2 separate regions of the Homo sapiens genome follow, and region 1 is linked to region 2. The links come from fine-mapping of genetic effects on plasma protein levels. A gene starts in region 2. The other region holds a variant in brackets. All regions are shown on one strand. Distances are from middle to middle. Region 1 has its middle 14 kb from the start of ARHGEF3. Region 2 holds the start of SLMAP (sarcolemma associated protein).

What was found. PIP is the posterior inclusion probability: the model's chance that the variant is causal. Protein levels are from antibody-based Olink assays in UK Biobank. Linkage for the fine-mapping came from a reference panel and not from the study's own genotypes, which makes the PIPs less certain.
Region 1: its variant is fine-mapped to the plasma level of the SLMAP protein (UK Biobank, PIP above 0.99).

Annotation. Positions count from the first base shown.
Region 1 is chr3:56,813,191-56,818,569 of GRCh38, forward strand. It overlaps a transcript of ARHGEF3 not described here. Among named protein-coding and RNA genes, the nearest start is that of ARHGEF3, 14 kb to the left of the region's middle. The variant T/C (reference allele first, on the strand shown) is at 2,531.
Region 2 is chr3:57,753,720-57,759,098 of GRCh38, forward strand. SLMAP (sarcolemma associated protein) reads left to right here and starts at 2,590. Exons shown (of 25, transcript NM_001377540.1): 1 at 2,590-2,623; 2 at 2,829-4,130. The coding sequence starts at 3,933. RefSeq lists enhancers at 1,696-2,598, 2,188-2,467, 2,498-2,677, 2,599-3,500 and a silencer at 3,048-3,327.

The DNA of each region.
Region 1 (5,379 bases), 940 kb before region 2:
ACATTGGTTTAGTGCATCCAAAACACACAACAGATAGAACCACTTTCTTTAAGATGAAGTCATCTTCCAGGAGAAACAATAGCTGGGAAGGCTGGGTTTTTATGATTCATGGGAGGAGGAGAATTTGATCTGTATTTTCTTTGCCACAGTCTATCCCATTTTAATGCATGTTAGAGGTTTTCCACATGTTAGGCAAATTTTCTAGAATGTTTTGAAAGGGAAAAAATTCTGCAGACTGCCTCAGTTACTGAAAGAGTTCTCTTTCTCCCCTGGCTGGGGAGGGATCCAGTTCTGTCTCACCGTGTTATCGAAAAGATCTGAAACTACAACTCTTCATTTGGATTCTGCTGTTATGAAATGCAGTTTGGGGTATCTTGTTACACTTTACTCCCAGAAGTGTTAAAGGAAGTGCCTGTCATCAAAATTCAAAAATAAATATAAAAATGATGCTGGCAGAGCTCAAAAACTAAAAGGATCAGCATTTTGCTTCAGTTTCCTGTTCATAAAACTTTATAAAAACAACCCACCCATTTAAAAAAAACCTGTAACAATAGTTCACTATTCTTTTCCTAAATGCTTGCCTCATGCCACTCTGAAATTAGGTGCCATCACGTTTCCTGAGTTATGGGCCCCAAACACCACATCCTTTTCCTCCCTCCCACACCCCCACCCCACCTGGCATCATTCCTGAATTTAGATGCTTCTCCAGTTTCTGAGCTCAGTAGACAGATGCCAACATTCTCCCTCCTACCTGTCCTGAAGTGGCCAAGCATCTGTACCAGCTGGAAGCAGGAATAATTGAGGCTTCCTTCCCCCAAATTAATTCTCACTTCCTAGAGAAGCTTTTAATATGGAAGGTTAAATTATAAAGTGAAGAGCTAGTAAACTGAAAAAGAATAAGATATTTCCCTCCCACTCTGCCTTTACAGCAAAATTTTCTTTGTGGAATACTCAACACTCTGTCCTTCTTTCTGGAAGAACATAGAATACAAGCTCTAGAACAAGCTTTTCCAACCCATGGCCCACAGGCTGCATGCATCCCAGGATGGCTTTGAATGTGGCCCAACATAAATTTGTAAACTTTCGTAAAACGTTATGAGACTTTTTTTTGCGATTTTTTTTAAGCTCATCAGCTATTGTTAGTGTTAGTGTATTTTATGTGTGGCCCAAGACAATTCTTCTTCCACTGTGGCCCACGGAAGCCAAAAGATTGGACACCTCTGCTTTAGAATGAGAAGCCTGGGTTCAAATACCAAGTTTTCACTTGCCAACTATATGACTTTGGACAGTTTACTTAATGATGACAAACATCAGTTTAAGCATCTATAAAATGGGGATATGAGAGTTTCAAGGTTTTAATGAGTTAAAAACACATGAATAATCCAATAAGATAATATGTATGTCAGATTTCTAAGCATACAGTTAGCACGTCATGCTATTATTAACCCTTCCGGTAAATAAATCATCCTTCTCCCTTTTTTTTTAAATGAATTAAGGAAAAAAGGTGGAATTTGGAGAACTTTTCCAACACTCCTTGCTTCCAAAGACATTAATTCTTTGATTTAATCTTATAATTTCAAAAAAGGATATGACTGTTGCACATATATAAAAGAAGCAGCAGAGTGAAGAGTGAACTGACCTAAATTAGAAGACATGGGCCAGGTGCAGTGGCTTACACCTATAATCCCAACACTTTGGGAGGCCAAGGTGGGAGGATCACTAGAGCCCAGGAGTCTGAGACTAGCCTGGGCCACAAAGTAAGACCTCATCTCTACAATAATAATAACAATTATTATTATAACAATTAGCCAGGCACAGTGGCATATGCCTATGGTGACAGCTACTCAGGAGGCTGAGGCAGGGTGATTGCTTGAGCCTAAGAGTTTGAGGCTGCAGTGAGCTATGATCGTGCCACTGCATTCCAGCTTGGGCAACAGAGCGAGACCCCACCTCTAAAAAAATTAAAAAAAAAAAAAAAAGAAGACATGGTATACAATCTGGCCCTACCATTAAGTCTGTGGTCTTGGGCAAGTCAAGTGATCTCTCTGAGACATAGATTCTTGAACCATATAACAAGGTGATTTAAACATAAATGTGTATGCTTCTGTGATTCTATTAAACAGCAAAGACTGAAGTGTATATGGAGTATTATCTTGATTTTATGCTATTTAATTTCAGGAAAGCTTTCAAATAAAAATTCATATCTTATGTACTGATGAAAGCACCCTGTCTAAAATTAGCATGTTTGGTATAGGCAGCCCACATTTTGGGTTGGTTCAGCATGGTAATATTTTATGAAGGCTCATCAGAAAATTAAGCTCAATGTACTCATTTGTCAAGAAATGCATATGCATATAGATTCTTTTAATATCAAATGGCAAAGCAAACAAGAGGTTGAAACAGAGGAAAGATCAACTATGAGAAAAGAATTACTGAGGGAAAATGGAGACAGACTACAAATGGGATAGAACTGGCCTAAAATATACCACTGTCACTTAAAAATAGGTACTCGGTTACATAGTGCCTGTGT[T/C]ATCTTTACAACAGCATTTGGTTCCTACACTGTCTTCTTCCTACAGGCCTGTTATGACTATGAGAGCTATCTGTTCCTTCAGTGGACCAAGTCTTGCTGCCTTGTGGATTCTGCCCAGTCACAGCTTCCCTTCTGCCCTTCAAGGGTGGGCTGCTTGCATCTAAGTGGTAGGGCCATACCTAATTCTGTTCTGGATATAACACAGATGACTGACTGGGCTTGGTGGCTGATGTCTATAATCCCAGTACTTTGGGAAGCTGAGGCAAGAGGATCACTTGAGGCCAGAAACTCAAGACCAGGCTGACCAACATAGTGAGATCCTGTCTGTACACAAAATGTAAAAATTTAGGAGGGCATGATGGTGCATTCCTATAGTCCTAACTACTTTAGAAGCTGAGGCAAGAGGATGGCTTGAGCCCAGGAGTTGGAGGTTACAGTGAGCTATGATTGTACCACTACACTCCAGCCTGAGTGACAGAGCAAGACTCTGTCTCTAAAAAACAAAACAAAAATACACATCTAGATGGTTGCTGGCATGAGATGCTAAACCACAGGCTTCTCAAAGCTGAGGGTTCTGTGCAACCCTGGCCAAACTTCTTACCCAAAATACTTACTTACATTAATGTTGTCCATTTATAAGAATTAGAACTAAAAACAAAGATACCTTGCAGCAACTTCTAAATAGTGCCCCATAAATAACAAATAGCACTAGAATTACTTAATAAATCATAATCTTCATTATTCTCTAGCATCTGTTTCCCCTACTAGATTGTACGCTCCAAAAGAATCATGAATCGCTTGTACAAGGCTACATCCCCATTGCCAAAAGATGCCTGGCAAGTGATGAGAGCTCAGTAAATGATGCTGAGAGCCGAAGAGGTGTTTGCTCTCTGCCAGGCACTGTGCTTTGACTTTAATGAAGTATCTCAAGTAATCCTTACAACAATCCTATGAAATGAGTACTTCTATAGTAGGAGAAACTGAGGCACAGAGAGTTCAAGCAACTTGCCCAAAGTCACACAGCTAGTAAGCAGCAGAGCTGGAGTTCAAATGCAAGCACCTTGCTTCTAGAACCTCAAGTTCCAATTCTGAAGCGGAACGTTAATTCACAGGCCAGTCACAAACCAGGGAGTCCTGAGGCCAGAGCCTATGATGCAAGGGTCAAGGATTTGAGCCTATATGATATGACTGAAAGAACACTGAATGAGAAGCAGTGCTGACTTGGGTCCAGTCCTGTGACGTTTTTGCTCACCAGCTTCCCCTGCTGATCAATCAGGGGGTTGGATGCTCACTCAAGTCCTTGTCAGGTGTCAACCCCAAGTGCTAGAGTCACCCTAGACATAATCTCACATCCAGAAAACTACAGAGCACAGTGTGCTCTTCCACCTTCCACGAGGGAGAACCACCAAAATATCAACCATCAAGCAAGTTACTCAGTCTCTCAGAACTTCAGTTTCCTCATCTGCAATCAGGACCAAATAGCACCTACTTCAAAGGGTGGAGGTGAAGATTAGAGAGAAACCTGGTTAAGGGGCTACCACATAGTAATAATTTCATAAACAGTAGCTAGGTTTATTATGGTCCCAAACAGAGCGAGGAGATAAGTCTGGAGGAGGAACGAATCTCTTCAAAACCCAGGAACCAACCAACCAGTTGGAAAGACAGCTCTGAAACTCAGATTTTTAAACAATTTCTAACAGTAGACTACATGTGTGGCACATCATCCAAGCAAAAAGTTCCATATCAGATTCTCTTTCAACAAATGGAGTAATAAAGACAGGTTTGAGTTAACTTCAGCTGGAACAGAAAGAACCATTATGACTTGGGAAGTTCACACCTGAGTGCTGAAAAGCTAGAAAATAATGTTAGGTGCCATTTGCCTTATGCCAGACCTGTGACAAGCATGTGACATATATTACCTTACTGAATCCTCACAACCTGCTGAAGAGGGTACTGCCCTGTTGTATAAATGAGGGCATGGAGGCTCAGAGAAGATAAGTAACTTGCTCAAGATCACACAGCTACTAAATAGCCATGCCAGAACTTACTTAGTCTGCCAGAACGTTGATGGTCTTAACCACAAAGCTACACCCTTCCCCAAAGATAGCGTGTCATTGGCCCCAGCATGCCCCGTACCCACAGGGCAATCATGTCCACACCATGGGCAAGTGGCTTTATAGGAAGGCCACGCATGGGGGATCAAGTGGCCTTGGGTTTTGGTCCCTGTTTACCCACAGACTGTGGCAGCTATGGACAAGTCATTTAACTTTCCTGGACCCTGTTTTGATCAAACAGAATGTACTGGATTAAAGTTTTTCAGTCCAAGTCTTGTGGAACATTAATCACTTACATTTTATACCCGAGAGGTTAGGGATAAAAGAGGAGCCAAAGACATAATGAGCTAACCCTCTGTCCTGGGACTCTGGCTAGGGGAAGAAGTGGAACACATTTGTTACCAAACAGAACTGGGTGACCCTCAGTTCCCTTCTATCTTGAAAATTCTGAAACTCTACTGAAAATTCTGAAATTCTCCTGAAAATTCTGAATTTTATGTGACAGGAGAGGACAAAGAAGAAAAGGACTTCAGGGAGTCATGTGGGAGGTGGCAGGGTGGCCATCTCAAAGCTATGTTTGCACAGCGACTACAGTGTACATGCTTAGCTGGTAAGCTTATTTGAGGTGCTTCTGGAGTGAGGGGGCTGGTGGAGATAATGGGAAAGGAAGCTAAATTCCTCCTCTTGAAATGACTAGTATTGCATACAGCAAGCACTCTATAGATGCTGATAGAACTGAATTCAAAGGAAAAAAGACCTGGATCAAACTGATAGAAGTTGAGCTGCTGCTCAAGA
Region 2 (5,379 bases):
ATAATTTACCATTTATGGTGCTGGTAAAAGTATGCCATGTCTGATTCCAGCACCTTGACTTTCATTACTTCTCTTTGATCTTCTAGGAGGAAGATGGAAATGTTCTGAAGTCTGGTGCATTGCCTAGAAGTCCTTCAGCAACTGAAACCTCACTTCTGTCACTCTTTCTCCTCGTTTTCCCTTATCTCTTATGCTCTGGTGATACGAACCTACTTGCAATTCCCTTAAAGTCCTGTTCTCTCAAGTCTCTGGACTTTTGTTGGGATTGCTTCTTAGCTTAAAATTTCTTTATCCCAATAGCATCAGACTAGCTGTTCTAATCCTTTCAAGTTTCAGTTTAAACTACTCTGCCATGTTTCCACTACTCTTGACATACTCCATTACAGCAAGGATCTTTCTGTGTCATCACCTAAATCGAGCAACTTGAGGGAGTCTTTTTGTTTCTTCATTATTGTATTTCCAGGACCTTTCAAAATATCTATTTCACAGTATCAATTAAATGTTTATAGAATGAATGTATGAAAGAATGCATAAATGACTTGCTATTCGTGCAAAAAAAACTCATTAGGGATCTGTGGAGGGTCCTATCTTATTTTATTCCTTAACAGCCTAAAAGTTATCAGAAGTGAAAACTTTTCATCCTCTCATAAGAAAGCTTTCCAACATATCCTCATTTTGAATAGCATACCTGGAACACAGTGGTAGCTTGACACATATTTGTTGAATTGATGAAGAGCTTGAAAAACGAATATAACGTCTTTATTATATAATGCCTATTCTTTCCAGACTCACTTTGTGTCCCGCCTACTTTATCCTCTAATAATGAGTAACAGTATGTAATTTTCATTCATGCATCAAATACTTATTTATCCACTATTATGTGCCGGCACATTGGTGCACTGTTTCAAGTAGGCTCCTTCTTTTCCTTGCTATCCGTGTTTGTGGAAATTCATGAAACCATTCAGCGAATACCATATTTATTGTGGTTTTCCTATCTTCCTTCATTCAGTTCAGTTACTTCTCCCAGACCATCCCTGACCCCTTGGGCAGCTAGTGCCTGCCTCTATCTTAGCCCTGATTACATCAATTTCATGTTTGTCACTCCCTACCCTCATTTCTAACCCACAATACCGTTATGATCTCAGAAGGCAGGAATTGAAGTTTGGTTCAGTTATGTGTCCCCAGGGCCCAGCAAAAACCTAGGACACGGCCAAACTGTCTATATAAGTATTGAGATGAATAACTGCTACTTTTTCTTTCTTTCTTTCTTTTTTTTTTTTTTTTTGGAGAGACAGTTTCACTCTTGTTGCCCAGGCTGGACTGCAATGGCGCGATCTTGGCTCACCGCAACCTCCGCCTCCCGGGTTCAAGTGATTCTCCTGCCTCAGCCTCCCAAGTAGCTGGGATTACAGGCATGCGCCACCACGCCCGGCTAATTATGTATTTTTAGTAGAGACGGGGTTTCTCCATGTTGGTCAGGCTGGTCTCAAACTCCCGACCTCAGGTGATCCGCCTGCCTCGGCCCCCCCAAAGTGCTGGGATTACAGGCGTGAGCCACCGCGCCCGGCCTAATTGCTACTCTTTATTGAACAACATGGATTAACATTTTGAAGTCTCACCACATCAAGTGAATTAACTATTATTAACATGTCATCCATGAGAAAAAAGAGGCTTGAAAAAGTTTAGAAACTTGCTTAAGGTCACACAGTGGTGGAGCCTGTTATTGCAGGAATCTGAAGAATGAAGTCACCTTTGATTCTAAATGAGTAAGTCTCCTTCTCACTATTTTTTCTTAAAGTTTTCATTTAGCCCTTGCAAAGTCTTCCTTCTTTAGACCAATGACTCCTCATCTTGATATTGTAAGTGGGGGAAATACCCTCTTTTTTCACTTTGGAAATTATTCAATCTCTCTTTGGAAGAAACATGATTTTAAACTTTCTGGACGCTCCTTCTGTGGAAGAATCCGCGCAGGAGCCCTGGGGGCACATAATAGGTTCAGTGAGAAAGACTGTCATTCGAAATGGAATGCGGGAACTAAGATTTTTTTTTTCCGGGAAGAAAACATAACGAATTTAGCAGAGGGGAGAATGGTCCTTCTGTTAGGTGCACAAATCCTAAGACTTCAGGGAGTTTGGCGGCTCACACTTAAGGTAGCTGCGGGTGACTGTGTTGCCCACAGCTAAGATGGCTGCTAATGACCATCTCCTTTGGCTGGGTCTGTTCTTTTGCTCGCTAGTATTTTCATCGAGAATTAAACAGAATAAAATTTAGTAAAAGTTGGCACCCCCTTGCTAAGTAGATAAAATAAGAAGGTGGCACTGTTTGTTTGAAAAACCTTCTACGGCGCAAATTGTTCTTGCCCTTAACCAAAATGGTCGTTAAGGTTGTCCCGAGGTTTGAAGCTTCCAGCCCTTAACTAAGATGGCGCCTGGAGGCCCGTTAAAAATTACCTTGCCCTTTTTTCTGCCCTCTACCAACACGGCTTCCGTGGCGTCGTTCACGTGACATTCCTGGACTACGGCGCGGGAGAGGGGGTAGGAGGGCCCTTGAAGGGTGCGCGTTCCCGTGGCGGTGCACCGGGTAGGTTTCAGTCAGAGTCACTATGGCGGCCGGCGCTGGCAAGGTAAGCTGAGGCGGTGGTGGCGGCTAGGGAGGTAGGACCCGTCGTGGCGTCCTGGCTCCAAATCCTCGTAGCCTGCTTGCGGAGAGGTCGGCGGAGGTCGTGCCTAGCGGTGTGGGCTGGCGGGGGTCTGGCTGGAGGGGGCGACGGCTGAGGCGGGCGGGCTGAGGCGCCTGACGGCCGTTTGTTTTGATGTTTTCCCCACCAGGTCGGAAAGTTTCCTGCCTCGTCGGGCGCAGCTTGAGCTTGCCCCATCGGCCGCGATCGGTGGAGGCTGCGGCGGATCCAGCCCGGGGCCTCAAGGCCTCTCCCCAACCTCCGGGCCAGTCTCCCTCCCCCACCTTCTCGTCCGCCGGGAGCTGCGGCTGCCGTCCCTGAGATGCGACCCTCGCGGGGGCGACCCTGAGGGGAGGCGGCCCATGTGCTGAGCGGCGGCCCAGAAGCCTAGGCGTCCGGGGACCAACTTCCTGCCGCCTGGGAACTCGAGCCTCCCGGTGTCGCGCCTCGCTCGGTCCGCACCGGCCTGCGGAGCCGGGTCCCCGCCCTGGTCGCGGGGACGCTCGCCAGGTGCCCAGGAGTCCCGACTTGGCCACTGCCCGCGCCCCGCCGGCCTCCACGCCTCGCGCGGAGAACCTCAGCCACCGCCGTCTCGGATCGTGCCAGGCCGGGGACCGCGTCCCCCTTCCCGGGGCGGCCTCCGCTCAGCAGGGGCGATGCAGACTGTCCCGCCGGCCGTCTAGAGCCCCTCCGTCTCCGTCACCTCTCGCCCCTTCACTCCGGGCGAGGACTGGCGGTGGCTGCCCAGAGGTGCCCAGCCACACCTTCCTTCGGCCCAAAAGGACTTTCCTGGCCGCGCCGAACCGACCCTTCATTCATGCTGCAGTGCTGCAACGTTTCCGCCACCAAGGGGGAAAAGCGGCCGCGATCTCAAACCAAACACAAGAATTGGCGTGTGACTCATCTGCTTGGATACCTCCAGTCCCCAAACTGTGTTCCAGGAGTTTTCTTGGCCGAAGCTGCCCGATGTTTGAGCCTTTTCTTCCCAGAGAAGAAGATGGACTGAAAGCTGCCAGTTGGGGACTTTTTGTGATCACGGCGTTGCAGCGTTTTAAAGGAGGTGATGGGGCTTGCGCTGGCTTGTCTTCCCACCCAAGTGAAGAGTTGATGTTCACTGGTTATGCTTAGACAATGTGCAGTTTGTGTTAATTTAAAATTTTGGGTGGGATAGGGGCATAGGCTTGTGAAGGGCAGTCCGGATCCGGAGGAACTCCTCTTTGTCCCTGGTAGGAGAGACACCCCCAGTCTATCCTCGATGCCGTCAGCCTTGGCCATCTTCACTTGCCGCCCGAACTCGCACCCGTTTCAGGAGCGTCATGTCTACCTGGACGAGCCCATCAAAATCGGCCGCTCAGTGGCCCGCTGTCGACCAGCGCAGAATAATGCCACTTTTGATTGCAAAGTGCTATCAAGGAACCACGCTCTCGTCTGGTTTGATCACAAGACGGGCAAGGTAATGTCACCACATTGTCCAGCGGCATTGTTTAACAAACTTTTTTTCCCCTTTTGCCCTCCCTGAGAGGACTAATGTATGCAGGATCCCAGGGTTTGCATCCAGAGGAGGCTTTGCGCAAAGCCACGAATCAACTGTTTGTGTGCCTGGTTCTAGTGGAAATTTGATTGAGGTGGTTGAATGGAAAACAGAGAAGGTATTGTAATTAAAAGCCTCAGGAGGGCTATGGCATCTTGATAACGTGGTCATTCCCAGTGAAATCCCAAACTAGATAGTGAAACTTGGCGTCTTGCTTTTAGTCTGTTTAGAAAGGTGAATTCACAGTTCAGCGCTTTATTAAGCAAGCAGCAGTTCTCGAAGCAATTCGGGGAATCCGTGGCCATTATTATCCCGGGGCTCAAGTGTCTTAGTGGTGAAATGTAGTTAACACATAGCTTTAGGTGAGTTCAGATCAGGACCTTTCTAGTAAGGATAATTGCTGATATAAACCTAAGATTTTTGAAAGGTTTGATACATACTTGCCCTTGGAGGAGTAATTTGCAATAATCAAAGCTAATTTAATTAAGCATGAACAACTGTAACTTTATATATTTTCAGAGTTTTTTTTACAAGTTGGAGAACATACACATATTGCGTTTGAAAATCACTTTTTGATGTTCCCTGCAGCACTTATTAAGTACTTAATGCATACTTACAGAGGTGCTATTCAAAAGTTAGTGTTAGGAAATAAACTTACTTTCTGAAATTATACCCTATTCTGTCAATTATAGCATTACTTAAATGTGATACGATGAATTCAGTGCTTTTCATTTTAAGCGTAACCAATTTAGTATTTTTATGTTAGTATCGTAAGTTACTATACATGTATGTGCTTTTATTTTAAGAAGTGAAGAAAGAAATTAAGATCCTTTCCATTTTTAAAAACTGTTTATTTATGTTTGTGGAGAGTATACTAAAGAGCTCATCTTTGTGCCTAAACCTCAGGTTTTTAGCTGAGCTACTGAATCAGTTCCAACTTTAAGTTATGTAAGACTAATAGGACTGTCTCAGGTTTCACCTCCTGACTTTTTGCCCCTCTTTCTGAGTTAAATAATTAAATCTTTCTTAAAGGAAGAACTTAAGTCTTCAAGAATATGTTTTGAAATGAAAGAAACCTGAGCCTCAAAAGGAAGAGAAAAAAATGATACTTCGGCAGCTACTGATTTAAGGAATTATTTTGTAAATTATTTTTTAAAGAAAGGAGGAAAAG